Linked DNA regions of Homo sapiens. The protein of the gene in region 3 purifies or fractionates together with the protein of the main gene of each other region. This does not show direct contact. Each region holds a gene or a part of one and is shown on either strand. Other genes may lie near its edges.

Region 1 (7,024 bases), on a different chromosome or scaffold from region 3:
ACCTGGAAGCAATCACAATTGATCAAGAGGTGAGTCTCTGGTATAGTTTTGAGAAAAGGACAAAATGAATTGGAAGTTAAAAGGGAACTTTTTTTGAAGAAGAATCATTTATCCAATTCACCATTCAACAAGCATTAATGAAACAACTTTTATTTGGTAGACACTGTATTAAGTGCTGTGGCTATAACAGTAACCAAGCCCCTGACTTAATGAAACTTGTGGTTTAGTGGAGAAGATGAACATTGAACAAATCATTCTAAATATGGTGGGTCTTATGGAGGAAAAGTACAATGTACGGTGGAATAGCATATTAGGAGGGTCTAATTTAAGTAGAGTGCTGAGAAATAATTAGATGTTAACTGGGACCTAACCTGATTAGTTTTCAGAAATTTGACTATGATGCGTCTTGGTGTGGATTTCTTTGGGTTTGTCCTGTTTGGAGTTTATTCAGCTTCTTGAATCTTTGGGCTTATTCCTTTTGCCAAATTTGGAAAGGTTTTAGTTTTTATTTTTTTGAATACTTTTTCAGCCCTGTCCGGTTTCCTCTTCTTCTGGAACTTTGATGATGTGAATGTCAGATCTTTTGTTATTAGTCCCCCAGGTCTTTGAGACTCTGTTTTCAATTTATTTTCTCTCAATGGTCAGTGGAGGCCTGGTAGGGAACCTCGAGTTCTACCTCCACTTGGCGGTAACAAGGTAGAGACTTCCCACTAACGCTCTTTCCCTGCTGGGTTAGTGGGAAGTAGTATCAAAAGAAGCCAGCTAAAACAGAAAGCTTAAATAAGATCGTAGGAGCACAACAGTGCAAAGAAAGCATGCTGAGCCCATGAATAATCCAGAATCTCATAATGCAATACCTAAAATGTCCAGCTTTCAACTGAAAATGACCTGTCATACCGAGAATCAGGAAGATCTCAAACTGAATGAACTGTTGTTCACATTGAGTAATTTCTTTTCTTCTGTCTTCCACTTCACTGATTCTTTCCTATGTCCCCTCTTCCAATGCTGACCCCGTCCATTGCATTTTTAGTTTGTTCTATGTACTTTTTCAGTTTTAAAATTTCCATTCAGTTTTTCTTTATATCTTCTAATTTTTTTTACTGAGACCTTCTCCTTTTTCATTTGCTTCAAGCATATTCTTAGTTATTCACTGAAATATTTTTACAAAGCCCGCTTTAAATTTTGTTAGATAATTCTGACACCTCTGTCATCTTGGTGTTGGAATCTATCGATGGACTGTTTTCATTCAGTTTGAGATTTCTACAAGACCTGGTAGGATCTATTAAGGTATTAGACTGTTGTTCTTTTCCCCCCAAGTCTGTTATGTAAAGCCACTGCAAGGTTTTCAGACAAAAGAGAGGTATGATTGCATTTACATTTTAGAATGATCAGAAAGGTGGCACCTGCAGAAAGTGACAAAATACTGTCCCTCCCTTCCCTATCCGGTATCTCATTTCCATTTTTTTGTTTGTTTGTTTGTTTGGTTTGTTTTTGAGACGAAGTCTCACTCTGTCGCCCAGGCTGGAGTGCAGTGATGTGATCTCGGCTCACAGCAACCTCCGTTTCCCGGATTCAAGTGATTCTCCTGCCTCAGCCTCCTGAGTGGCTGGGATTACAAGCTTGAGCCCCCACGTGTGGCTAATTTTTTTGTATTTTTAGTAGAGACAGGGTTTCACCATGTTGGCCAGTCTGGTCTCAAACTCCTGACCTCAAGTGATCCACCTGCCTTGGCCTCCAAAGTGCTGGGATTACGGGCGTGAGCCACTGCACCTGGCCTCATTTCTGGTTTTTTTTTTTGAACTTGTCAAAGGAAAGATAATAAAGGGTGAAGGGCTCAGCAGAAAACTAACAATGTGCTATGCAGAGGGTTTTTATTTCCATTTGGCTATCTAGTATCACTTCAAATTTTACATGTTCAACACAGAATTCTTCCTCTTCTCTAATCCTGTTACATCACTGATGTGCACAGCAAGTGAAATGGAAAGCAAGATTTCTCTTCTTCTCTTGTTCTTACTTCTGATCTCCTTTTTCCTAGCCATTCAGCAAAGGGGAATTGTAGCTTAGAGAGTCTTAGCCCCAGCATCATAACGTTGAGTAGAGAAGGATGGTTGTTTCTGAGAGACAGGGTGGTAACAATTGGCACATCTAGTGATAGCTACCTTCTCAATCTCTTGCTACCCCAAATGAAAGCACCTTTGTATTATCTCTTCATGGACCTGTTCGTGAATTTCTCTGAAGTGTACACTCAGGAGTGAGATCCCACAAGTAGGCCCATTTTTTTTGTTTGTTTTTGAGATGGAGTCTCACTCTGTCGCCAGGCTGGAGTGCAGTGGCACGATCTCGGCTCACTGCAACCTCCGACTCCCAGGTTCAAGTAATTCCCTTGCCTCAGCCTCCCGAGTAGCTGGGGTTACAGTTGCCCGCCACCATGCCTGGCTAATTTTTTTGTATTTTTAGTAGAGATGGGGTTTCACCATGTTGGCCAGGCTGGTCTCGAACTCCTGACCTCAAGTGATCCGCCTGCCTCGGCCTCCCAAAGTGTTGGAATTACAAGTGTGAGCCACCATGCCCGGCCAGTTATACTATATATTAAGTAGTGTTTAAGTTCTGAGAAATTCAGTGCTCTTAACCATATGGTATTCTGTAGTATAAAGCTACTTAATATAACCCCTATTTTATTATTTTTATTTTTTAAATTGATGTCAATTATAAAATTAATAAAGCCACATAACAGAACTTTGGAAGATAGGAGGAAAAATACTCATCTAAATCTACCAGGTTGCTATAGCTACTTTTACCATTTTATTACATTTCTTTCCAGTCTTTCCACATGCATATAGTGTCCATAGCTGTAACTGATGTATAAATAATATTGTACATTTTCTCTTAATATTTTGTCATAATCACTACCTGATATATTATGGTTGTTGAAGAATTGCTTGTTGAATGAGCATTATATTGCAAGAATGTTTTCACTATCTTTGTAAACATAAATTTTAATAGCTGTATAATTGTCCATGAGCTAGATGTAGCCTAGTTTATTTAATCATTTCCCTATAATTGGATATTTTGTAGTTTTTGAAACAGTTTTTACTAAAACTGCAATTAACATTTTCATGAATGGAGCTCTACCTCCCAACCCCCACCAGCTGGAGTGATAGAAGTAGGTATACTGATATTGAGTCAAGGGATATGAAAATTCTTGATCCATGTTGCTTTTCAAAAGAATTATACCAATTTACAGTGTTATTGACAATAAATGAGAGTGGTTCATGTTTATGAGTTTTTCTAGCTCATATCTGTGACTTCTGTTTTCTTTTTCTGGGTTTCTTTTAGATTCTTGTGTTTTACTTTTTGCGATGTCTTCTGGCTTTTGTGAGCTGTATTTGTGAACTTTACTTTTACAAGTGAGTATAAAAACTTTGCTTCTAAAAGTGCTGTGAGGAAACCCATTATTGCATAGATTATCTGTTGTGATAGTCTAGGCAGTGATTAGAAATAGAAAACTCTTGACCGGGTGCGGTGGCTCACACCTGTAATCCCAGCACTTTGGGAGGCCAAGGCGGGCAGATCACCTGAGGTAGAGAGTTTGAGACCAGCCTGACCAACATGGAGAAACCCCATCTCTACTAAAAATACAAAATTAGCCGGTTGTGGTGGTGCATGCCTGTAATCCCAGCTACTCGGGAGGCTGAGGCAGGAGAGTCACTTGAACTTGGGAGGTGGAGGTTGTGGTGAGCTGAGATTGTGCCATTGCACTCCAGCCTGGGCGATAAGAGCAAAACTCCATCTCAAAAAAAAAAGAGAAAGAAGTAGAAAACACTTTCCTCCTAGCTCCTGATATATATATCATATACATATTTTTTTTTCTGGGAAAGAAAACTTTTTTTTTCATACTGAGTTTTATTGTATGCTGCTGCCAGTGTGGATAAAACAGTTACCCTTGTGAAATAGAAATTCATGAAATTCAGAGAGGTAGATGTTAAAGACTGATGAAACTAGAAGTTCGTATATTACAGCACATGTGCTACAGGGATAAGCTTTTGTACAGGCTTCAAATTTAGCTCTCTTTTGAATATCCACTGGATCATAAGAAGTGGTTTGGGAAACTTTTGAAATTCATTTTACTACAAAAAAGAACAGATTTTCTGGGGTCTGAAGGGATTTGTACTTGAAGATACTCTAGTCAGCAGAGGGTCATGTTGAACATTCTGCAGACAGAATTGTTTGAAGTCTGCAGCTGCCTGGGAAACTTTTATGCAGTTGAGCCTGGCCTCCAGCCGGGGCTGTTGAACCACTTTCTTCATAGCGGCAACGCTGGAGGAGCCAGACATGGTGCACGTGAGGGCCGGGCCAGTTCGTGGGTTGGTGGGTCGTGGGTCAGCGGGGCCTGACTGAAAACTTCTTGCTTTTATTTATTGTTCTCTTCTTTTTCTTTTTTTAATTTTTATTTTTCAATAGTTTTTGGGGTACAGGTGGGTTTTGGTTACATGGATAAGTTCTTTAGTGGTGATTTCTGAGATTTTGATGCACCCATCACCTGTAGCTCCTGATATTAAATCTGAAGTGTGACTTCTCGTTTGAAACCAACAGTTGAAGGGAACACTGTACTTCTAATTATCGTTTTCTTTCCTGAGGTCATAAATACCATATCCTTATATCATTCATTTTAATTCTGTTAAAAACTATCTAACTGGTCTTTACTTGATAGGATTTAGTAGAACCCTATTTTCGGTCCTAAGATACAGGATCATGATTTGCCTCTGCCCTACAGCTTAGTTGATAATAAACTACTCCCGGTGTGGGATATCACTGCTCTTGTTTGCACCCAATATATTGTCTTTCACAAAGTACCTATTAGTTGATTGAATATTAGTTGGGACTATTAAGCATTTAAGTGTCCCGGTAATAAATATAGCCACCTTTTTTACATGATAACTAACAAACGTCTTGTTTTAATAATGCTTTAGTAATATATTTAAAGGTATTTGGACTTAGTGATCATTATTTAAAATCTTCCCACAGCTAAAAATGTCAGATTTTAAAAAATGTTTGGCCTTGACTGTGAGTGGAGTGGAGGGAAAAAAAGTAAAGCTAGTGCTGCCTTTGAGGATTGTAACCGTAAATTCCGTAAATTGGTCTTTATATGGGTTTGGGCCTGAATTCAGATCACCTATGTGGTCCTTCAAGCCCTAAGCTGAGAATTTACTTTAATATATTTTATTTATTTTATTTTATTTTTGAGACTGTCACCCAGGCTGGAGTGCAGTGGCATGATTTCGGCTCACTGCAACCTCAGCCTCCCGGGTTCAAGCAATTCTGCCATCTCAGTCTCCTGAGTAGCTGGGATTACAGGTGCAAACCACCACGCCTGGCTAATTTTTTGTACCTTTAGTAGAGATGGGGTTTCACCGTGTCTTGGTCTCCTGACTTCGTGATCTGCCCGCCTCGGCCTCCCAAAGTGCTGGGATTACAGGTGTGAGCCACCAGGCCCAGCCGAGAATTTATTTTAAATTGTTCTGGGTTGGTAGTGCCCGTGGCATCTGGCAAAAAATTTCTCTAGAGAAATGGACCCTTAACCCAAGTGTCTGAAAATTACCAGAGATAAAGTTCTAGTGAACAAGAAATTATAATAAAAATAAATCAGAGCACAGAGGGAGCAAAACATTATGGGTGAGAATCAGCAGAAATAACAGTCAACAGAACGTTCACCTGAAAAACTTCATTTATTGGGAAATAGGAATATAATGTAAGTATATTTAACATTTTCAAACAAGTAAAAGAACCAAAAACATGAACAAGAAACAAGAGATGACCAAATAAATTTAAAAAATTCAGAACTTATAAGAATCATATAATATGTAATATTATATAATATGAATAATATGTATATAATATTTATATTTAAGACTCAGTAGATAAACAGCAGATTAGACATTCTGATGAGTAAACTAGTAAATTGGAAGATTGATTTAAATAAATTACTCAAAATGCAGTACAGACAGACCAAAAAAAAAAGGTAATATAGAAAAGGTTAAGAAATGTGTAAGCCACGGCTGGGCACGGTGTTTTATGCCTGTAATCCCAGCACTTAGGGAGGCCGAGGCAGGTGGATCACTTGAGGTCAGGAGTTCGAAACCAGCCTGGCCAACATGGCGAAACCTCATCTCTACTAAAAATACAAAAATTAGCCAGGTGTGGTGGCACATGCCTATAGCCCCAGCTACTTGGGTGGTAGAGGCACGAGAATCACTTGAACTCAAGAGACGGAAATTGCAGTGAGCCAAGATCACCCCATTGCACTCCAGCCTGGGCAAGTGAGACTCTCTCTAAAAAAAAAAAAAAAAAGAAAAAAAAGAAACATGTAAGCCAGAGTTGAAAGAACTGACATACATCTAATCAGATTGTAGAAGGAGATGATAGAATGCGGAGAGGCAATATTCGGGGTATTAATAGCTGAGAATTTTCTAGAAATGATGGGAAAAAAAGATGCTAATCCATGGATTTAGTAAACCTAACATATCCCAAGCTAGATACATAAAAAATTAGTGTAGTGAAACTGTGTAAGACAATAGAGACAAAGAGAAAGATTTTAAAAATTGTCAGAGAACTAATAGAATACCTGCAAAGGAGTGTTAGGCAATTACACTGACAGAAGACTTTTTAACAGCCAGAAGACCAAAAAAGAATATCTTCAAAGTCCTGAGAGAAAATAACTTTCATCCTAAAATTGTATATTAGGTTAAGCCATCTTTTAAGACCAAGAGCTAAATACAGACTTTTCAGTTTAAAAAAAAAAGAGAAAGGGAAAAAAAAAGGAAGAAGCCTGTAATCCCAGTGCTTTGGGAGACTTAGGCAGGAGGATCATTGAGGATTGCTTGAGCTCAGGAATTTGAGATCAGCCTGGGCAACATAGCAAGACCTCATCTCTACAAAAAATTAGCTGGATGTGATGGCACATGCCTGTAGTCACAGTTACTCCTAGCCATTCAGGAGGCTGAGGCAGGAGGTTCCATTGAACACT
Region 2 (7,024 bases), on a different chromosome or scaffold from region 3:
CCAACCCCCAACCCCCAACCCACCCCGAGTAAAGCAGGAAGGCCTGGCCTGAGCCTCTCTGCCACCCAAAGCTCCTTGCTTACCTGCGTACAAACTTGGAGGTGAACTTGCTGAAGATGCTCCCAGAGGCCCCCCGCCGGCCCTGGCTGTGGCCAGAGGGAGAGGCTGGGGTCACACCGTAGGGCAAATTCTGCTGGTCCCGCACCTGTCGGAGCTGCCCAGCATGGAAGGTGCTTCGGCTGGACACACCCCGGGGGAAGTTAGTTCGGTCTGGGGCTCCACCACTGCTGCTGATGTTGTGGGCGGATGGGGAGGCAACAGGGACACGCTGGGGGGCTGTGCTGTGGGAAGAGAAGTGGGGTTGAGGGGGACGAATTAGGGTACAGGACAGCCATCACTGGGCACCTGGACACCCTGTGGTGGGGACAGGGAGGGGGATGCTAGGGCAGAGGCAGCCATCACGAGGACACAGAAGGAAGGGTGTGACTACTGAGGACAGTGGTGAGAAGGAAGTCTCGTGGAAGTGGAAGGAGATGGTTTGGGAAGGGAGGGAGGGAGGCAAGGAAGGACCCCTGTGTGGAGTGTGGTTTAGGCTGGAGACAGCGGGCTCCCTGGGAGCCGGGCAGACTGGACCCTCAAGGCGGCAATGGGGACCAACCCTTGAGGATTGAGTCCCTGTGATGCCGACTATCCCCGGGGTCCCTAAGGAAACCCTGGAAGGTTCAGAACAAAAAGGTTTCCCTTTGGAGCCTTAGGACAGCTTCCTGCATACCTGTTCTGAGAGGGAGAACTGGAAAAGAGGGGCATTAATGCTCTTTTTTGTTCCCTCCACTTCCTGGCCGCAGGGGACAGACCCATTTCTTGTGGCTAAGATGACAAGAACACAGCAGGACCCCCAAGTGGGAAGAAGAAATTGTTGGGGCAAGGGGGTAGGGTGGGCTGAGGGCAGCAGGTGCACCAGCTGCCCCAGCACACTTGCCTGGGCCGCGGCACCTCACAGTTACTCTCCGTGGGGGGCAGCCCAGAGGCCTTGTTGGGGTGCACGGAGGCCGACATGGATTTCTGGTGCTGGCGGGGCCGGGCCGCAGAGACTGCGGCAGAAGCAGAAGCCGTGGAGGCCCGGGACCCTGGCATGGTTAGGCTAGGAAACAAAAGCAGCGGAGAGGCCCGTGTTAGGGGTGAGTGAGGGCGGGAGGCCTGGATTAGGAAGCAAGGGCAGGGGAAGGGCCAGAGCTGGGGAGCTCTGGCAGGGTAGAAGTCAGGCCTGGGCAGCAGCGGGATGCAAGTCAGAACTGAGGAATGCGGGGCTGAGAAGTGGAGGTGAGTGAGGTCGGGAAGCAGCGAGGTGGGTCAGTGCCTGGGAAGAGGAATCAGAAATGAAGGAGAGCAGACAAGGGGCCGCTGCCTCCAGGCTGCACTGGCCTCCTAAGAATTTTAAGAACAGGAGAGTTTCTTCTACAGAAAGAGTGGGGTGTTGCTGAGGGGAAACTTTCATAAACTCAGAAGAGATAGAGCCAGGAATGCAACACCAAGAAATGCGGCCGGTGAAGGCTGGGGAGCTCTGGTCTCATGGGGATGGCTGGAGTCGCCCTCTATGTGTACACCCCTCAAGGTGGGCATCTCTTGGTTCTGCCCTGAGCTGGGACCCCCAACACAAGGCCTTAGCTGCTCATGTCTAGAGGAGGGCAGCTGCCATGCCCTGGCCGTGGTCAAGAAGCGAGCATGTAGCTGAGATGGCCACGGTCAGCCCCACACTTGGCAAACTGCAAGTAGCAGTCAGAGGAAGATGGGGAGGAGGCAATGGCGTGGAATAGGGGAGGGGAAAGCTGGACTGGACACAGCCAGGATGGAACTCCAGGGAGCAGGGAGCAATGCGCTGGCAGGGACAGGAGACGGTGCTGCTGACAGACATCACCCTGTGAGACATGGCTCCTAGGGAGTGAGGCAGGCAGGGCCCGGGTCTCTCACCTGTCTTTGCCATTCTGGATGGAGGCCTGGCCGAGGCTGGCCCGCTCCAAAAGTGGGGAATTCCTGCTTCGATTTGTGCTGGTGGAGAGGACGCTGTTCTGTGGGGAATAAAGGGCAAGCGTTCTATCAGAAAGCCAAAGTGGTCTACAGCCAGGTTCTCCCCCCAGGTTCATGGAACAGGCTTCCTGTCCCTTCCACCTGAAGCAGACAGTGGTAGGTTAAGGAAAGGATTCTGCATTTACTGCTGGGAGCGAGGCTTCCTGCTATAAGCAGAAGTAGTAGCCAAAGGGAACAGAGTCTGAATTAAGAGAAGAGCTGCCTGGAGAGGGCAGGCCCCACCGCAGGAAGGAAGGAGAGAGCGGGGGGTGCGGCTCACCGTGGAGGGGGTTGGGGTGGTCTTCTTCCTCTCCAGACCGGGCAGGGGGCTGGCAGGCACCTTGGCTGTGCTGCTGGCTTTCCGCCCTGACTCCCGGTCCTCCTCAGGCCGCTTATTTTCTGCGTTGTTACTCTGAGTCTTCTTAGAGTAAGAATTAGAGGTGGGAATGGCAGGACCAGCTGCTGGGCCAGAGGGAGGATGGGAATGGGTAAGGCCAAGGGGTCCACTGAGTGCCAGCCCCACGCATGCTCATTTCCTACAGGGCTGGCCAACAACCCAGCAAGCCCCCATTCCACAGAGGCGAGGGAAGGGAAGTGGCTTGCCCATAGCCACACTACTAATAAGTGGCTGAACCAGGACTGAAACTTAGTTGTGTTACCCAAGTCCCCACAGAACCTGTAACCTCTCTGGAGAGGGGTGAGTCCCCACCTACAACTCCCAAAAGCATTTACCCTGGTCGCTGAAGCGCCGCTGCTTGGGATTGGCCGACACGCTGCGCTGTACCTTGTGGGATGGGGATGGGGCGCTGCTATTGGTCAGATCAGCTGAAGGCCGGGGTTTCAGGGTGATGGTGTCGCCTTCCAGCTGAAAGAAACAGAAAACAGCTTCAAGGGAGGGCAGAAGTCATGTGGAGATCCCTATGGATGGACACATTTACACATACCGCCCTCTCCCAACACTCAAACACCCCAGGATCATACCGGACATCCACTTGTAAGACCAATACATCCCCCCTGGAGGAGACCCTGGAGACACACATGCTCTGACACAGACACTGACAAACACAGTCTCAGAAAGGAATACATAAGCCCACACACCCAGAGACACAAACATCCGCAAGAACACATGTCCAGACTCAAGTCCACTCCCCTCAACACAGAGCAATATGGGCCTATACCAAGTGTCACCAGGTGCCTCTTAAGGATCCCACCACCAGAGGGAGAGCAGGGCAGGGAGGCTGGGAGTTCATGTGGGGATACTCAGATGATGAACAAAACCCAAATGGGCAGAAGAACAATCACAAAGTCTCCAGATCCACAGACGGGAAGACGGACACATACACACACACACACACACACACACACACACAGATACACACACCCAAACATAAAGCACTAGACAGAAGCAACAGACTCAATAGCCGGGTATGGTGGCACATGCCTGTAATCCCAGCTACTTGGGAGGCTGAGGCAGGAGAATCGCTTGAACCCGGGAGGCGGAGGTTGCAGTGAGCCAAGATCCTGCCATTGCACTCCAGCCTGGGCAACAAGAGCGAAATTCCGTCTCAAAAAAAAAAAAAAAAAAAAAAGCAACAGACTCAAACTTCCGATCAGACACACACAGAGACACACACACACACCCAGAAATGTACACTTCCAGATACAAAAAGAGACACAAAGATATCTAGATCAATGTAGTAGTGCTAGCCGATGACCTAGACACATCTAATCAATGCAGACTAACCTAGATCAACTCACCCGTATTGAAACTCTGACCCAGTCCCACACCGACCCTACCAGCTTTCTATTAATTCACTCATGGAGATCAGTGAATGGGCCAGAGGACCTTAGACACCAAAGCTGAGGCTTAAAATTGGTGAGCAGAGAGCACACCTACTCAGAGATGAGCTTCTGCCCTCAACAGGTGTTAGAAGCATAGGTGCTACAGACAGTGAGGCTGGCCAGGTCAGAGAATGGGGCGGGGAGCACACACCTCGGAGCTCTTGTAGCCCAGGAGCAGATAGGTGGCCATCACCTCGTTGTATCTCTGGCCCACCAGCGAGTCCTGGATCTCTTCCCGTGTATAACCCATGGACACCATCAGCTCTGCACAGGGGGACATACAGTTAAGACTGGCCTCAACTCCTAGGCAAGCTTAACCTCACAGCCCGGCACAGCCTCACCTGTCCGCCGGGGGTCCTTGTAGTCAGGGAGTGGCTCCACGTAAGGCTTTAGTTCATCATCTTCGTGACCCACATTCATCCATCGATCTTTCATGATTTGCTGGGGAGCACAGAGAAGGAAAAGGGCAGGGGGAAGAAACTCAGCTGGAAAGTTTCTGTGGGGACCCCAGGCCCTTCCGCCAGTTGGGCTCCACTGCTCACCTCTAAAGTGCCTCTCTTGCTGGGATTAAGAATGAGAAATTTCTTAAGCAGGTTTTCACAGTCCGTGGACATGTAGAATGGAATACGGTATTTTCCCCTCAGTACCCGTTCCCGCAGCTCCTGCAGGAGGATCCAGGGTTAGAAAATTGAAATCACCCCAAGGCCAAAGGAAGAAACCTAATATCCAAGATCCTGAGAGCTTAAGCCTGGCAAAGCAGACATAAATGAAATATGGAAGAAGGCAGACAGCCTGGGGACAAGACACCTCACCAGAGAGGCAAGTGAAGTCAAATACCCTCGTACCCTCTAACTTGACCAGTCCGAGGCCTGCAATCCGGAGTGCCTTGGGGGATGAACACACACACAGTTTATCCCATCTTTCGAGAAAGGAACTGAGGTTATTCATTCCCAGGTGCAGAAGGCCTTTGACTGCTGCTACCTCAGCAAGCCCTTCTCTGAAGCTTTGGCTTGGGACAAATGTAGACAGGTGGCAAAGGCAGGAGGTCAGGGCTAAGACCAGAGGCCGAGAGGAAATGAGAAGCAATAAAAAGCTTGCACTTCACTCCACCTTGAGGTTCTGTCCATCAAAAGGCAGGGATCCGCTGACCAGTGTATAGAGGATAACTCCTAGGCTCCACACATCCACCTCGGGTCCATCATATTTTTTGCCCTGGAAGAGTTCTGGGGCAGCATAAGGGGGACTGCCACAGAAGGTGTCCAGCTTGTTCCCAAAGGTGAATTCATTGCTGAAGCCAAAGTCTGCAATCTTGATGTTCATATCAGCATCCAAGAGCAGGTTTTCTGCCTGGGAGGTAAGATGGAAAACATCAGGGAACCAAGTGGACCAGACTAAGGCCCTGGGCAGGAAGGAGCTGAGGGGAATGGGAGAACAAACGGAAAGTCATCTTCAGTCTCAGAACTTTCTCCACCAATTTCAGGGCAGGGCTTCAATCAGCGTGAATAGGCTGGGCAGGAGGAAGGCAATGCAGGCCACTCCTCACGTGGGCAGCCATGGGAGAGATGGGATCTGAAGGCCCAGAGACCCTGTGAGCTGTGCAAAGCTTCAGCATCAGGCCCAGGTTAATCAAATCATGTCTGTGAGGACTCAGCAGCCAAGAGACCCACAGGTGTCCTCAAACTTGAGTATCTTGGTGATGGAGATGGTATGTGTGTGCCTGCCTGCAAAGCAGCTGGGATACAGCTGTGGAACTTTCAGCACTCTTCCCTGGGTCAGCTACCAGGTTGCCTGAAAGACTGAGAAAGCCTGGAGTGTGCCTGCCTTGCTTGGCAGCACTAAAAGGTGATGTGCCAAGAGGTGAAATGGCAGAGGGCCCCTGCTCAAGGGCTAGAATGGAACCCGAGGTCCAGCCACAAGGCCTCTATCAGAGGCAGCCCTAGGGGCTTTCTGGTCATCTCAAAAAAAAAAAAAGAAAGAAAGAAAGAAAAAAAGAAAGGCTGGAGTTTCCTGGAACACTCAGGGCCTGATGGTTATTGATGGTTTTATCATGGAGAACCAAGAGGCAACAACCTGGCTCCCACTCAAAGGCACAAGGAGAAGTGCATGCCTTACCTTTAAGTCTCTATGGACAATAAACTTCTGGTGACAGTACTGCACAGCAGACACTATCTGAAAGGAAGGAAGAAGGGTTAACCCAGGGGTGCCTGAGGGTGGGCCACAGGGGCTGACAGAGCAGTGACCCTGTGACTTAGTGCTAACCTGCCACACGGATAAGCAGAGCCCAAAGTACCCTCCAAGGGCCACTTACAGACAGGCAGCTTATCCTTACATGTCAAACCCCAAAAGCAGAGGTCAGGCCTAGCTCCTATGGAGGGAGTCACACCTACCTGGCGGAATTTGGCTCGAGCCTCTTTTTCTTTCATCCTGCCATGAGCCACTAGGTAATCAAATACCTCTCCTGTAAGAGACCAGGCAGGGATCTCAGTCAGAGCTGGCTGGAGGTGGAAGAAGTGGGGGCACAACAGGAAGAGGCAGTTCCACACCTACCGCCACTAGCGTACTCCATGACAAGGTAGAGCGTTTTCTCAGTCTCAATCACTTCAAATAATTTAACTACAAGAGAAAAGGCCAAGCCTTAAGTCAAGAAGCAACAGGGGCCACATACTGCTCTCCAACATGTCCAGGAGCATCCTAGGAACGAAAGTCTCCCCTCCTTTCATGATCCCCCACTCCCAAGAACAAGTTCCTCTCATGCCAGCCAAACTGCTAAAGACAGCCCAGTGTGCCAGAAGGGGAGATGGATTTTGAGCTGAGCTTCCCCAGGGGTATCCTTGAAGACTGCAGACTCCAGAAGGCAGTGCACCTCGGGGAGAAGATGACATGCTGGAAAGCAGTGCCTTGCTGTTGGGGAAGAAGAAAGAAATAACAACTTGTGCTCACCTATGTTGGGATGATTCAAAACCTTCATTATTCTTACTTCGCGGAATAGCTGGAAGATAAAATACCAGGGGTCATGCCTGCCCAACTTGCTCCCATCAGGTCTCTCCAAACAGTCCCTGCCAGGATTTGTTTTTCCCAAAAAACCAAAACCGGGCAGGGAAAAGAAAATAGGGTGGTT
Region 3 (7,024 bases):
ATCAGACCCGAACACACAGACTTTTGAAGAAAGGAAGGGGGTTGGTTGCACAGCCGCGTAAGGGTACTTAACACTACTGAATTGTACACCTAAAAATGGTTAAGATGGTCACTTTCGGCCGGGCGCGGTGGCTCATCCCTGTAATCCCAGCACTTTGGGAGGCCGAGGCGGGTGGATCAGGAGGTCAGGAGTTTGAGACCAGCCTGGCCAAAATGGTGAAACCCCGTCACTACTAAAAATACAAAAATTAGCTGGGTGTGGTGGTGAGTCCCTGTAATCCCAGCTACTCAGGAGGCTGAGGCAGGAGAGTCGCTTGAACCTTGGAGGCGGAGGTTGCAGTGAGCCGAGATGATTGTGCCATTGCACTCCAGCCTGAGCCACAAGAGCAAAATTCTGTCTCAAAAAAAAAAAAAAAAAGATAATCGCTTTCATGTTTTGTGTATTTTACTACAATTAAACATTTTCTAAAGAAAAAAAGGAAAGAAAGGGGGTGATTTTCTCAAAGGGGAATTGAGGGGTTGTTACCAGAAGGAGAAACGAATGTGAGTGAGTAGGCGAAACCAACCAATTTCCAGAGCGAACGGAGTCAGGTGCTGACCCCAAGCCAATGTGTCTTTTCTCACTTTAATGCCTGAGGGATTTCAGAGTGAACAGAGTGAAGAAAGGAGGAAGTGGAACCTCGTCATGGTCCTCACCCACGAGGTGGGCGCGAGGAGCAGGCTGGTACTGGATAGGCTCAATGTGGCCACAAAGCCTGGTGAGGTCACAGGGACTCCCCTCCTCCAGCCCCAACCCAAAAGGTTGCCTAAGGCAGGTGCTGCGCCATGTGCACCAAGCAACTTTCTGCTGCCACCTCCAAGAAAGAGAAGGACCGGGAGGGGATTTCTCCCAGGAGAGAGAGCACATAACGCTCCGTCTTTTCACCTGTCTGTTCTCAAGCAGGACCTAAGTGTCTAAGGCAACCCCACACCCACAGTGCCTGGCAGGGGCCCACCCATGGGTACACATCGTGTTCTCCTAAGCTCATGTCACTCCATTTCAGATGTCAACTGGACATGGACTCCTGCTGATCCTCCCTACTGTCATTCACTCCTCTCCTGCTCCAGCCCTGATCCCTGAGGTCTCTTCTACCCTTGCAGTGTCTCCCCTCTGTGGTCCTCAGGCACCAAGGCTGAGCCCTTTCCCTCGGCCCTGCAGTGTCTCCCCTCTGTGGTCGTCAGACACCAAGGCTGAGCCTTTTCCCTTGGCCCTGCAGGCTCAGTGGGGAGCAGGGCTTTCCCTGCCTGGCCCTGGACCACCTCCTTCAACTTCAGCAAGTTAGCGGTCTCCCTGTCACCAGCCAGCCTGACACCCTGAGACCTCCTCATGGGCCTCGGCCGTTCTCTTGTTCTAGGTTATTGGGCCCTTCCTCAGGTCCTTAAACTGATGCTTCCATTCAGCTTCTCATCTCCTTCCAAATCCCCAGTTTTCTTCTAGGCTCTCTGGCTAGAGAAGGTTAGAGCCATTTTGAAGGCCTCTGACAGCCCCCGTCTTGCTTTGTCTCCACAGAAGGCCATGGTCCCATGATACACTCAGGGGTGCTGTTCAGAATATCAGGCACCGCATGGCACAGCTACTTGGGAGGCTGAGGCAGGAGAATTGCTTGTACCCTGGAGGCGGAGGTTGCAGTGAGCCAAGGTCACGCCGCTGCACTCTAGCCTGGGTAACAGAGTGAGACCCCGTCTCAAAAAAAAAAAAAAAAGTTAAATCACTTGATATGCATTCTGAAATATTTAAAGGAAAGTATATCAATGACTGCAATGTACTTTGAAATGCACGATCAGGCTGGGTGCAGTGGCTCACACCTGTAATCCCAGCACTTTGGGAGGCCAGGGCGGGAGTTTGAGACCAGTCTGGCCAACATGGTGAAACCCCATCTCTATTAAAAATACAAAAATTACCCGGGTGTGATGGTGATCTGTAGTGATCTGGTGCCTGTGATCCCAGCTACTTGGGAGGCTGAGGCAGGAGAATCTCTTGAACCCCGGAGGCAGAGATCTCAGCGAGCAGAGATCGCACCATTGCACTCCAGTCTGGCGACAGAGTGAGACTCTGTCAAAAAAAAAAAAAAAAAAAAAAGAAAGAAAGAAAGGTGGCATGGGTGGTGCTGTGTGCCTGTAGCCCCAGCTACTCGGTAGCCCTAGGTGGGAGGACTACTTGAGGCTGGGAGCTTGAGGCTGTAGTGTGCTACAATCCCATCTGTGAATAACTACTGCACTCCAGCCTGGGCAACATAGCAAGACCTCTAAAAAAAAAGGAGAAAGAAAGATGGACAGAAGGATAGATAGATGGATAGATGTATGTTGTTGGGGAAAAGTTAAATGACTAACAGTACCTAGTAACTGTTCACATTCCTTGTCATGATCATAAAAATCAAATAATAAGAAATTAGAAAACTTCCATAGGAAATGTAGCTACCTATAATACACTGCCATATGAATTACTGGGTTATTGCTCCACTCAACTTTTAGCTTGTGATGAGGAGGTGATACCAGCACTGAGCCTGCAGGATGAGTAAGAGCTTTGCAGGTGAACAAGACCAGCAAAAGAGCCTTTCCCACAGAGGACAGAGCGTGTGGGCATGCGTGATTTAGTCAAGGGTCGCAGGCATCCCAGGGTGGCTGGGGCTTGTGGTATTGAGGTTGAGCTGATGCAGAAGTCACAGACCTGGGTTTGAATTGTGGCTCTAACATTCTCTAGCTGTACAGCCTAAACCTATGTGAGCCGCCATTGACCAAGTGTGAAATGGAGATGACAACATTTACCTGCTAGGATTTTTGTGGGAATTATATGTAAAGTACCCGGTATAGCCCGTGTTCCAAGGTGAGCACTCAGTAAGCATGAGCTGTCACAGTGAAGAGCCCGGACAGAATCTGGGAGTGATTATGCAGACCTCGAACACCACTGAATTGACCTTTGAATCGGCCTCTTGTCAGGAATCCATATGCTTTCGTTCTTCAATCGTACACTTTCTCAAGGAAACCAAGTAGTCGGGGTGGGGGGATATATTTTCATTGTTTTCCCACTGGGGCCACTAAGCCGCTGTCATCACCCATAAAAAACCCCTGCCCACAGTCTACCGTGGACCCTGGGTGCTCGCTTCTCCCCTGGACATCCCAGGGTCCACACGCTGCAGCTCCCAGGGGTGGGAGAAGGGACGAAAGCTCCTTCTCCTTCACTGTATTTCCCTCAACACCAGCTTGCTGTTTGCACAGAGGAACTCTGCTTTCCCTTTGATTAATACACCTCTTTGTCTCACTATGGAAAGCGTCTGTCCCCCTCCAGTGGGGGCGTGTCCTCCTGCAGGCCTTGGAAGGCTTGGTGGGGTCCCCCGCCCACTAAACGTGAAGTCCGAACATTCCCTTACATCGACAAAGCCTTTTCACACACACTGTCCCATTCAGTCTCGACACAACCCTGTGAGGCCATCAAGGCAAGTGCTGTCCTCCGTGGTCACCACCAGAGTGAAGGAGCCAGGCTTGGGCCCAGGCCTCCTTCCCCAGCCCAGGGTCCCTTCCTCTACACAGGTCCCACCTGCTCCTTCTTATCGAGAAGGGCGGTGGCAGGTAGCCACTCCCTCAGAAGTGACCAGAGGGAACAAACTTGTGATACTGAAGGGAAATCAGATGCTAATGCGTTATGCGGTTGAGCGCCTATCAGCAGAGATTATGTGGGTCTCTCCTATAGAAAGGTGACACCGAGGACCTACCACCAGCCACCACCAGCATGCAAGGGCGAGGTGTCACCTCCCAGTGGGAGCAGGTTTGCATTTATTAAGACCTGTGGCCAGATGGCAGCCTGTGGGCATGGAACAGGACGAGGTGGGCTGACCTCTGATGGCTCTACCAGGCCGACGCTGACCACGTAGGGAAGCCAGTTGGCTTATTCGTGGCCCTAAGGAAGTGAGGGCTGAGCAGGGAGGTGCTCAAAGCGGGCTCCTCACACTGGCTGTCTGGAGTCGCTGTGGGAAGGGCCCAGGGGAAGAAGGGTTGCTGGGGCCTCTGAATCCCCCCCCGATGGAGGCAGAGCCTCATCCATTCCCAGAGAGTCTCTCGCCACGAGCCCCGGTACAGCGCAGGCTGACCAGAGAACCGGAGAACCGGGTGGGAACCGGAGATCTGAGTTGAACCAGTGCTGGGAACCATGGCACTGCCTTCGCCGAGCCGCCGCGTGCCTCTCTTTTCACCTCTCTGGCCTGCATATTCTTTTAGCAAACTTGGGGATTATACTACACATTCTGCTTTACACTTTCCTTTCCTTGATATTATTTTATTATGAACGTCTTTCTGCGTCAATCAATATATTGCTACCAAAGCATTTTTTTATCATACCACGTCATTCCTATCATGTAGTTTTACCATAACTTATTTAGCCAGTGCTTCCATTATTGGACTTTTGATGGTTTCCACTTTTTTATTATTCTTACTAATGTTACAATGAATATTTCTTTTAAAATATTTTTATGTACATTGTATTTCCTTAGGATAAATTCCTAGAACTTGAGTCATTGAATCAAAAAGAATCCAGACTTTCAAGGTCTTTGATAAATTGGCTAAATTGTTCTTCAGAAAAAGTGTGCCAATTTTCTGTTCTACCTGCAGGGTGTGAGACAGTTCTTAGGGGGGGAGAAGTCAAAACAATTGTATTGTCTATATTTTGACAAATTCATTATTAAGAGAAAGCTAGAGAAGCAAATCACAAGCTCTGAATTCACACATCACAATTCTAAATGTTTGTTGTTCTAATCCTCAATTTCAAGTTCTTGTTAATGCATCCACCATTTGAATATTTACTTTTTCAAAATATAGGAATGTGTTAATTTACCAAAGATCACAATCGGTTCTTTGCTTTTTGCTTATTTTTTGAGACAGAGTCCCACTTCGTTGTCCAGGCTGGAGTGCAATGGCATGATCTCGGCTCACTGCAACCTCTGCCTCCCAGGTTCAAATGACACTCTTGGCTCAGCCTCCCGAGTAGCTGGAATTACAGGTGCCTGCCACTATGCTCGGCTAATTTTTGTATTTTTAGTAGAGACGGGGTTTCACCATGTTGGTCAGGCTGGTCTCAAATTCCTGACCTCAGGTGATCTGCTGGCCTTGGCCTCCCAAAGTGCTGGGATTACAAGCGTGAGCCACTGCGCCCAGCCACCTGGCTAATTTTTGTATTTTTAGTAGAGACGGGGTTTCTCTATGTTGGCCAGGCTGGTCTCGAACCCCTGATCTCAGGTGATCCACCCACCTCGGACTCCCAAAGTGCTGGGATTGCAGGTGTGAGCCACTGTGCCCAGCCTGTATTTCCATTTTTAACATAACAAATGTTTCCTGAGCACCTTTCTGAGAAGAGTGTTTGAAAAAGGTATGTTAATGATTCCTGGAAATATGGGGACAGAGATTACCATAATTTAACATCTCTTTTCAGGAACACTTATTTCATTTTCCTCATTTTTAAATGTGAGTACTTTAAAACTTACAGAAAAGTTTACAAGAAAGTACAATACTAAATTTACCGAGTAGTAATATTTTGCTTTACTGTCTCTATTGAGCCATTTGAAGGTAGTTTACATAAATTACGGACATCATGAAAGTTCCCTGTAAGTGCTTCAGCATGCATTTCCTAACAATAGAGGCGATGTCTTACATAACCACAGGCTTGTTATCCGACCTGCAGACCTCATATCATCTGTGCATCTGAAAACTCATCACTTAGTGCCTATTTAAATTTCCCCAATTGTCTCATACTTTTCTGTTAGAGATTCTTTAAAATCCAACATCCGGCCAAGCTCAGTGGCTCACGACTGTAATCCCAGCATTTTGGGAGGCTGAGTTGGGTGGATCACCTGAGGTCGGGAGTTCAAGACCAGCCTGACCAAAATGGAAAAACCCCATCTCTACTAAAAATACAAAATTAGCCAGGCATGCTGGTGCATGCCTGTAATCCCAGCTACTCAGGAGGCTGAGGCAGGAGAATCACTTGAACCCGGGAGGCGGAGGTTGCAATGAGCCGAGATTATGCCATTGCACTCCAGCCTGGGCAACAAGAGTGAAACTCCATCTCAAAAAAAAAAAAAAAAAAAAAAAATTCCAACATCCACTCAAGGTTCATTCACTGCACTTGGTTAAATGCTTCTTAGTCACTTGTAATCTAGAACAGACACCCCCAGCCCCACTCCAGCCTTTCTTTGATTTTCAAGACTGACTCTTGAGAAGTCCAGGCCAGTTACCTTGCAGGACGTCTTACAGCCCAGATCTGTCAGAGGCTTTCCTCATGACTGGATTCAGGGCAAGTGTTTCTGGCAGGCGTTCCACCAGGACAGTACCCTGTTTCCTAAGTCATCACACTCAGAGGCTCAGAATGGCAGGAGCTCTCACCACGGGGGTGTTGAGTTTGGACATTTGGTGAAAGTTGAGGTCATCCTAATGTTTTGCTAAGAATCAGAGGGACCAGAGCTGCTTGCTTGAGACTTCCCAGTGCTTCCTGGAGAAGGGACTGTTGGAAATGGTCACAGACTGGGGGTTGGTTTTGTTCTGTATCATCTGTTCTCAGTGGTCTGTGACCAGCTGCCCTTCCCATTCTCCCAGATCCCAGGTGCAATTGCTCTTTTTCTTGCAGTCAAAGGCAGACTCCCTTTCTTGTGGAGGCCTCCATCCGGCACCGTGTGCCCTTGTGTGTCCATGAGTGTCACTGTCACACATTTACCACTGCACCTGTGCGCACTCTGCCTCTGGAGAGCCCTCCCCCAGACCCAGGGAGAAATATTTGTTTCTCTCTTTTTTTTTTGAGACGGAGTCTCGCTCTGTCGCCCAGGCTGGAGTGCAGTGGCGTGATCTCGGCTCACTGCAAGCTCCACCTCCCGGGTTCACGCCATTCTCCTGCCTCAGCCTCCCGAGTAGCTGGGACTACAGGCGCCCGCCACCGCGCCCGGCTAATTTTTTGTATTTTTAGTAGAGACGGGGTTTCACTGTGTTAGCCAGGATGGTCTCGATCT
Region 4 (7,024 bases), on a different chromosome or scaffold from region 3:
TCCAGGACACGAGGGAGCAGCGTAAGGTCAGTGCACTGCCCTGGGCCTCATCCTATGCCCATGCCTCCCCTCACCCCAAGACAACCCTGGGCCTTCCCAGCACTTGCTGCTCCCGAGAGTGGGTGGGTTTTAGCCTTCCCCTCCTCAGCCCCACGGGCTGGAAGGCGAGGGGCAGGAAAGAACAAGAGGCTCCAGGGCACCTCTGAGGGCTGCAGAGGACTCAGAAATCAGAACCAGAACATTTTTACTCTTTGGGCTCTGGGAAGGGCCAGGCAGAGTGCAAGGTGTCCACAGGAGGGGTAAGCAGAGAGGAGCTACAGGGGGCTGCAGTCCTAGTACCCTGTTGGGGAGGACTGAGGGATGGTGAGTTTGGTCTCCGGAGGGGGCTCCAGTCCTGGTGCCCAGTTCTGACACCTGCCCCTCCTGAGTTCACACTGGAGTCCTTGCAGTCCTGAAACCACAAGGCCTGCCTGAACCCTGGGTCAGGAGAGAAACACTTGGGGAGGGGAAAGGACGGCGTGGGCTACCCATGACGGCTCTGAGTTCTTCCTGGGGCTTGTGTCTTTCCTTGGCAGAAGAGGGCACAGCCAAGGCAAGGAGGGGCTGAAGGCTGCGGGGCCATCCCGGCCTGCCAGAGCCATGCCCCTGACTCCTCAGCTTCAAAATCAGGGGTCTCAGGACAGAGGATGCTGGGTGGGCTCAGAGCTCATCAGGGGGGCTGTGTGTGAGAGGGGATGCCTTCTGGATGCCCTCATCCTCCTCGGGGCTGGGGTCTCCCTCAAGGCCACCCAGCTCCTTCCTTTGTTTGCTGCTGCTACTCCTGCCGCCTGCTGCCTTGGCCCTGCTGCTCTTCTTCTTGGACTTCTTCCCTCCCAGGGCAGCTGTGTCTCCCTTCTTGCCGGACCACTGCTCTGCCAGGCAACCTAGGGTGTGGAGGAGAGAGACCCTCAACAGAAGTGCCTCAGGGCTGGGGTGCTGGGCAAGGAGCACTGAGCAGGGAGCCGTGGGAGTAGCAACTGGGACTGTGCTTGACATCAGCCTCCCTGCCTCCTGCCTCTCGCTGTGGCCACCAGGCCCCTCTGGGGGCATCTGACTTGTCTGCCCATCATTCTGCACCTGGTTTCAGTGACTCTTACTTCACCATGTCTTGCCAATCAAGCCTTTCAAGGGCAGAGATCCTACAATGCCCTCTGGTGCCCTCTGTTTCTCCTCCTACCCACCTCCCCCAAGGGAGAGCAAACAAATCATCCAGAGCCAGCCTGCCCTTGCTTCCCCAAACTCACTGGTGTCTTTTCCCTTCAGCACGTGGTTGGCGCAGAGGAATTCAGTCAGGTCTTCCTCCTGGTGGTTCCTGTACCAGTCCTCGATCACCTCCTCAAACTCTTCCACCAGCACATCACACTGTTAATCATAATACCTCATATTGGCAAAGCCCCAGCACCTGACTCGCTCCTAGAGGAGCTCAGCTAAGCCTCGCAACCCACTGCAAGGTAGGCAGTGGCAGCGGTTCACCTAAGGAAACTGAGGCCAGAGAGGTGAAATGACCTGACCAAAGCCACCCCGGCCTGGGTGGACTTCCTCAGAGCAGACCCAATCCCCACCAGCCCCTCACTGGGCACAGCAACCCTTCCAAGGGCTGAAGGGCCTGTACCTGCTTCTTGAGGTCAGCCACCTCTGCAGAAGTCTCGTTCCACAGCTCATAGGGGATGTCCATCACCACCTTGACCCCTTTGTGTACCAGGTTGTGTAATGTCTCAAAGGTCTCTGACATGCCCTGGAAGAAGCGACCAGATATGGCAGGCGGAGCTCCCTTCTCTCCCTCCCACCCTCGTCTCCCAGTGGTGGCTAAGAACCCAGCTATAAGACCAATGCTCAACGCCCTCTAAGGATCCTCATCCTTTTTTTTTTGAGAAGGAGTCTCACTCTGTCGCCCAGGTTGGAGCGTCTCAGCTCACTGCAACCTCTGCCTCCCAGGTTCAAGCGATTTTCCTGCTTCAGCCTCCCAAGCAGCTGGGACTACAAAGGCGTGCCACCATACCCGGCTAATTTTTGTAGAGTTGGGGTTTTGTCATGTTGGTCAGGCTGGTCTCGAACTCCTAGCATCAAGTTTTCCACTCACCTCAGCCTCCCAAAGTGCTGAGATTACAGGCGTGAGCCACCGCACCTGGCCTCATCCTTGACCTGACCTTCCTCTTCCCTCTTTTAGGCCTGCTTCCCACAACCCCTGCACATATACCCCCTGATCTGCCTCTGCACACCTCATCGCTTCAAAAAGACCTGCGGCTGCCCTCAGGCCCTTTGGCTTTATGCTTCTTTTCCAGGAAATAGGTTTGTCTTAGCTCTTTCCCCTCACTATGGCTGGAAACACTCCCATATCATCCAGACCTGCTGTTCCGTTCTTCCTGGGTTGTGTCTTTCCTCAGTGGGAAAAAGGCATAGCTGAGGCAGGTAGACCCTTTATTCTGTAAAAACTATCTCTGCTAGCTGCCTAGGTCTTATCCCCAGAGAAAACATACTATCCATTTCCTCTATTTTCCCAGAGATAACTCATACAAATACCAATATCTAAATATATCCTCCCCCCGCCTTTTTACACAAGCAGTGGTATAGCATACACACTATTTTGCACTTGCCCTTTTTACTTATACCTTGAAGGGCTGGGTGCAGTGGCTCATGCCTGTAATCCCAGCACTTTGAGAGGCCAAGGTGGGCTGATCACCTGAGGTCAGGAGTTCGAGACCCCCTGGCCAGCATGGTGAAACCCCGTTTCTACTAAAAAACACAAAAATTAGTCGGGCGTGGTGGTCGGTGCCTGTAATCCCAGCTACTCAGGAGGCTGAGGTGGGAGAATAGCTTCAATCTGGAAGGTGGAGGTTGCAATGAACTGAGATCGCACCACTGCGCTCCAGCTTGGGCAACAGAGTGTGAGACTCTGTCTCCAAAACAAACAAACACACAAAAACCTTGAAAATCAATTGAATTCAGTTCCTAAAGAGCCTCCCCATGCTTCGTTTCCAGCCGCATACTAGTCCACCAAACGGCTGGATCAACGTATTTAATCCCCTATTGGTAGAGTTAGATTGTTTCTCATTTTTTTCCTGCTATGAAAAATAATTCTTAAACACTTTTTATTAAAGCAAACACAGATTTATTACTGAGTGCAAAATTCATACAAATTTCTGCTGCTTGAGACTATTCCCTTAGGTATCCCAGGAGTTTATGAATGGTATCCTTTGCTAGAAGGAAACTTAGGTAGAAAAATGTGGGTGGCAACTATCTTACCCTGTGCCAGGCACTGAAGATGTAGAGAGTAAGAACTATGGGCCTTGTTGTAAGCAGCTCATTCTCCAGAGAGAAAAGCACTCGTACACATACTGAGTACATGGGCCATCACAAGGGCATCCCAGCGGGGTTGTGGGAGGTGCTGTGTGGACCCAGAGATGGGACTGGGCAGTCACTCCCACCGAGGTGTCCTCTGACACCTCGCCTAAACCCCCACCTTTCTGCACATCGTGGATCTTGCTGAGTTCTCCCCGTTCTAGTGTCTTTAGGTTCCCACGGGGGCAGCAACTGTGGAGCATTTCTGCCTGTGTCTGAGATTGAAGCAGGACCCTCATGAACAGGCCCAGACCCTCATGCATGTGCCTGAAAAATGAGGCCACTCAAGAGGGGAGGAGCACAAACGGCAATCAAAGAATGGGAAGAGGCAATGAAGGAAGATCCCAGGTGGTCATCTTCAAATCACACTCACACCAGCAGACACACTAAGATACATGCAGGCCTGACCCCAGAGCGGATGAAGGACAATCCCGAATCCAACCTTGGCAAATCGATTGCTGCCGGTCCTCTCCTTGTGCAGGCTATAATCCAGGAGCCTCTTGCAAATGGTCTCAGTGACTTCGATTAACCGCAAGTCCCTGCCAAGACAGGAGGATGAGGAACTGAGTTCCCCTCCTAGCCGCAGTGGGTTAGTGGTCTGTCCCTCCAGCCCTGTGCCCCAACACCTGCACATCTCACCAATGGGAAGTGACTCAGAGCTGGAAGGAAGATAGGTCATCTGGTCTGGGGGATCTGAAATGCTGGAACACAGACCAGAGAGACAAAATTTTAACAGCTCTAAGGGAAGGAATTTTTTATAAAGCTAAATGATTCAGTATTTAGATTTTTTGATAAAGCAAAATTATTAAATTTTGATAGTAAAATATCATTCTCTTTGAAAGGATGATCACAGCTGACAGAATTGGGTTTTTAAAAACTATATTTGTACCTAGCAAAATAAAAAGCTGGTAATCCTGTTACTAATGTTTTAAAAAATTGCACTGTGGCCGGGTGTGGTGGCTCACACCTGTAATCCCAGCACTTTGGGAGGCCGAGGCAGGCGGATCATCTCAGGTCAGGAGTTCGAGACCAGCCTAACCAACATGGTGAAACTCCATCTCTACTAAAAAAATACAGAAAATTAGCTGGGCGTGATGGCACATGCCTGTAATCCCAGCTACTTGGGAGGCTGAGGCAGGAAAATCTCTTGAACCCGGGAGGCAGAGGTTGCAGTGAGCAAAGATCATGCCATTGCACTCCAGCCTGGGCAACAAGAGTGAAACTCCGTCGCAAAAAAAAACTTGCATTGCTCTGTGAAATCCAAGCGTCTGAGAATCAATGATATAGTCCAACAGTCTTGCTTTTAGAGATGAGAAATCTGCTGAAGCATAAAGAAGTTAAGAGATTTATGCACGTCACCCAATTAGCTGGGGACAGAATCAGTGGGCAAACTCAGGTCTTGGTTACAAATGATGCCCTTGTAGGGGGTTTGCCTAGCTAGGAGAAGGGAACTCCAAACCCCTGAAGCCTCCAGCAGCAACGCAGGCCAGGCCAGTGAGTCCCCATTCACTTACGACTTGGTGTATTTGACTCCAGAGGCCTTCTGGTCCAGGATGCCATAGCCCGTGCCAATCACCTCCTTGGTCTTGCCGGTTTCCTCAAAGGCTGACTTCAGCTCCACAGCAACATATTTACACACTGGGGGAGGGAGGTAGCACAGCCCACTGAGTGCACATGAGTCTAATGGGAGGCCAGCTCCCAGCAAAACAGATCCAGGTGGGCATCCTTTCCTAGACTGGAGGACCAAAATCAGCACTCAAGGCAGGGAAGGAGTTAGAACCTGTGGAGGCTAAAGCAACTCCATCTTGGATGCTAATGTGCCATGTTGACTTCTGATTAACCCCAGTTTCAGGAATGCCTCTAGGATTTCTATTTTATCTACTGTTTCTTGTGTAAGAGCATGTACTTACTGTAAATCCTGCCCTTAAGCAATTGTTCTTCGTATTCCTTTTTTTTTTTTGAGATGGAGTTTCGCTCTTGTTGCCCAGGCTAGAGTACAATGATGAGATCTCAGCTCCTGGGTTCAAGCGATTCTCCTGCCTCAGCCTCCCAAGTAGCTGGGATTACAGGCATGCACCACCATGCACGGCTAATTCTGTATTTTTAGTAGAGACAGGTTTCATCTTGTTGGGTAGGCTGGTCTTGAACTCCTGACCTCAAGCGATCCGCCCACCTCGGCCTCACAAAGTGCTGGGATTACAGGCGTGAGCCACCACGCCAGGGTCTATCATTTTACTTTCTAAAATTGCATACATACAGAAAAGCTGAAAGAACACAATGAATACCTTCCACTTGTATTCAACAGTTGTTAATAGTTTGCCACATTCTCTCTTCAATATATAATTATAATATCTCAACAATATATACATTTCTTTTGCTACACCATCTTGAAAGTAAGTGGCAAACATGACCTTTTGAGATAAATATATCATCATGTATCTCCTGAGAAAAAAGACCTCCTCCTACATAACCATAGAACAATTATGATACTTGGAAAATTAACAATTCCAACATCACCCAGTAGTCCATATTCAAATTTCCTTAATTGTCCCCAAAACATCTTTTATGGTTGTTAGATTACTTGATTTCATATGTGTTCCAACATCAGCTCTATTTCTACCAAGTTAATTTGCTCCATGCCCTCCAGAGAGCTCTTGTTCCTACTGTCTCCGCACATTTATTTCCTCATTTCCTCTTACCCTTCCTCAAATAGGTATTAGGCAACTCCTACGTGTCAGCCTGGGGATACAGAGATGAAAACAAGGTCCCCTCCCTTCCAGATACTCAGTCTAATGCAGCAGATAAAGGTGTAGACAAATAACTACCACTGTATAGAGTGCTACAGTGCTACCACCGAGGGTGTGAAGTGCCTGAGGCCCTAGGAAAATACTTAATGCCTTCTAAGGGCTTCTCTGCCCATCCTGCCCACCTCGCATTATAAGCCTCTCCCCCAGGAAGCCATTCTGCACTAATGCCAATTGCTCTAGATTTCACTCTGGGCCTCTGCAGGATCCATGCTCTCCCTAAGGACCCTCAGTCATTTGATGTGTCTCTCCACATAGACCACAAGGGTCCCCAAAATGTGCATTATGTATTAGATTTTTTCGTATTTCCTTAGCCTGGGACTTGATATATGCTGGACGCTCGATAAATCTTGTTGATAGAGACCGTCTTCTGATGCCTCTGAATGGAATACCAGTCTGAAGGCTAAATGCCATCAGCAGTTTTAACACTGACAGCACAGTCTGCTAGAATACCAATTTACCACAAAAATAAATACATCCCCTGGAGGCCTGCTTGGTGAAATTAATCAATGGCTTGGAGAATTTGAAACACATACAAATTCCAAGTAATAAGCTGGTGATCTTCAAGTCTGCAATGAACTGGGGATGTCTCACCTCCCCAGCTCTCCATCCAGGACCATCTGGGCTCCCTCCCCTCTTCTGTCCTGTACTCTGTGCAGGCACATCATTTTTCTAGCACCACTTGCCCCTCCTCCCACGCCCTCCCCAGGAGTGGGGAAAGGGGAGGTTTGGAACATCCTTTCTCTCTCATACCCATCAACCACAGCCTTGCTTTCCAGCTCTTCCAAACATTACCTCTTCAAGACCTCCTCTGCGGATCCCACCCAGAACCAGACTCACAG

What was found.
Region 1: the proteins of NRROS (region 3) and ALG9 purify together in Homo sapiens (affinity purification with mass spectrometry; 2 studies listed by BioGRID and IntAct, with this or other methods). This does not show direct contact.
Region 2: the proteins of NRROS (region 3) and MARK2 purify together in Homo sapiens (affinity purification with mass spectrometry; 2 studies listed by BioGRID and IntAct, with this or other methods). This does not show direct contact.
Region 4: the proteins of NRROS (region 3) and CNPY3 purify together in Homo sapiens (affinity purification with mass spectrometry; 2 studies listed by BioGRID and IntAct, with this or other methods). This does not show direct contact.

The regions. Positions count from the first base shown.
Region 1 is NC_000011.10:111,861,564-111,868,587, reverse strand, and holds part of ALG9 (alpha-1,2-mannosyltransferase ALG9), read left to right. Parts: intron 1-3,336; coding exon 3,337-3,407; intron 3,408-3,889; exon of another isoform or gene 3,890-4,395; intron 4,396-7,024. UniProt on the Homo sapiens protein: Mannosyltransferase that operates in the biosynthetic pathway of dolichol-linked oligosaccharides, the glycan precursors employed in protein asparagine (N)-glycosylation.
Region 2 is NC_000011.10:63,898,103-63,905,126, reverse strand, and holds part of MARK2 (serine/threonine-protein kinase MARK2), read right to left. Parts: intron 6,896-7,024; coding exon 6,847-6,895; intron 6,520-6,846; coding exon 6,454-6,519; intron 6,365-6,453; coding exon 6,294-6,364; intron 6,076-6,293; coding exon 6,019-6,075; intron 5,254-6,018; coding exon 5,017-5,253; intron 4,569-5,016; coding exon 4,449-4,568; intron 4,348-4,448; coding exon 4,248-4,347; intron 4,171-4,247; coding exon 4,058-4,170; intron 2,930-4,057; coding exon 2,797-2,929; intron 2,527-2,796; coding exon 2,345-2,526; intron 2,067-2,344; coding exon 1,969-2,066; intron 1,142-1,968; coding exon 980-1,141; intron 342-979; coding exon 84-341; intron 1-83. UniProt on the Homo sapiens protein: Serine/threonine-protein kinase. Involved in cell polarity and microtubule dynamics regulation. Phosphorylates CRTC2/TORC2, DCX, HDAC7, KIF13B, MAP2, MAP4 and RAB11FIP2. Phosphorylates the microtubule-associated protein MAPT/TAU.
Region 3 is NC_000003.12:196,642,674-196,649,697, forward strand, and holds part of NRROS (transforming growth factor beta activator LRRC33 precursor), read left to right. Parts: intron 1-7,024. UniProt on the Homo sapiens protein: Key regulator of transforming growth factor beta-1 (TGFB1) specifically required for microglia function in the nervous system.
Region 4 is NC_000006.12:42,932,467-42,939,490, reverse strand, and holds the end of CNPY3 (protein canopy homolog 3 isoform 1 precursor), read right to left. Parts: intron 5,114-7,024; exon of another isoform or gene 5,017-5,113; coding exon 4,893-5,016; intron 4,080-4,892; coding exon of another isoform or gene 4,018-4,079; intron 3,955-4,017; coding exon of another isoform or gene 3,918-3,954; coding exon 3,821-3,917; coding exon of another isoform or gene 3,737-3,820; exon of another isoform or gene 3,126-3,736; intron 1,775-3,125; coding exon 1,652-1,774; intron 1,402-1,651; coding exon 1,284-1,401; intron 924-1,283; coding exon 700-923; 3' UTR 197-699; downstream 1-196. UniProt on the Homo sapiens protein: Toll-like receptor (TLR)-specific co-chaperone for HSP90B1. Required for proper TLR folding, except that of TLR3, and hence controls TLR exit from the endoplasmic reticulum. Consequently, required for both innate and adaptive immune responses.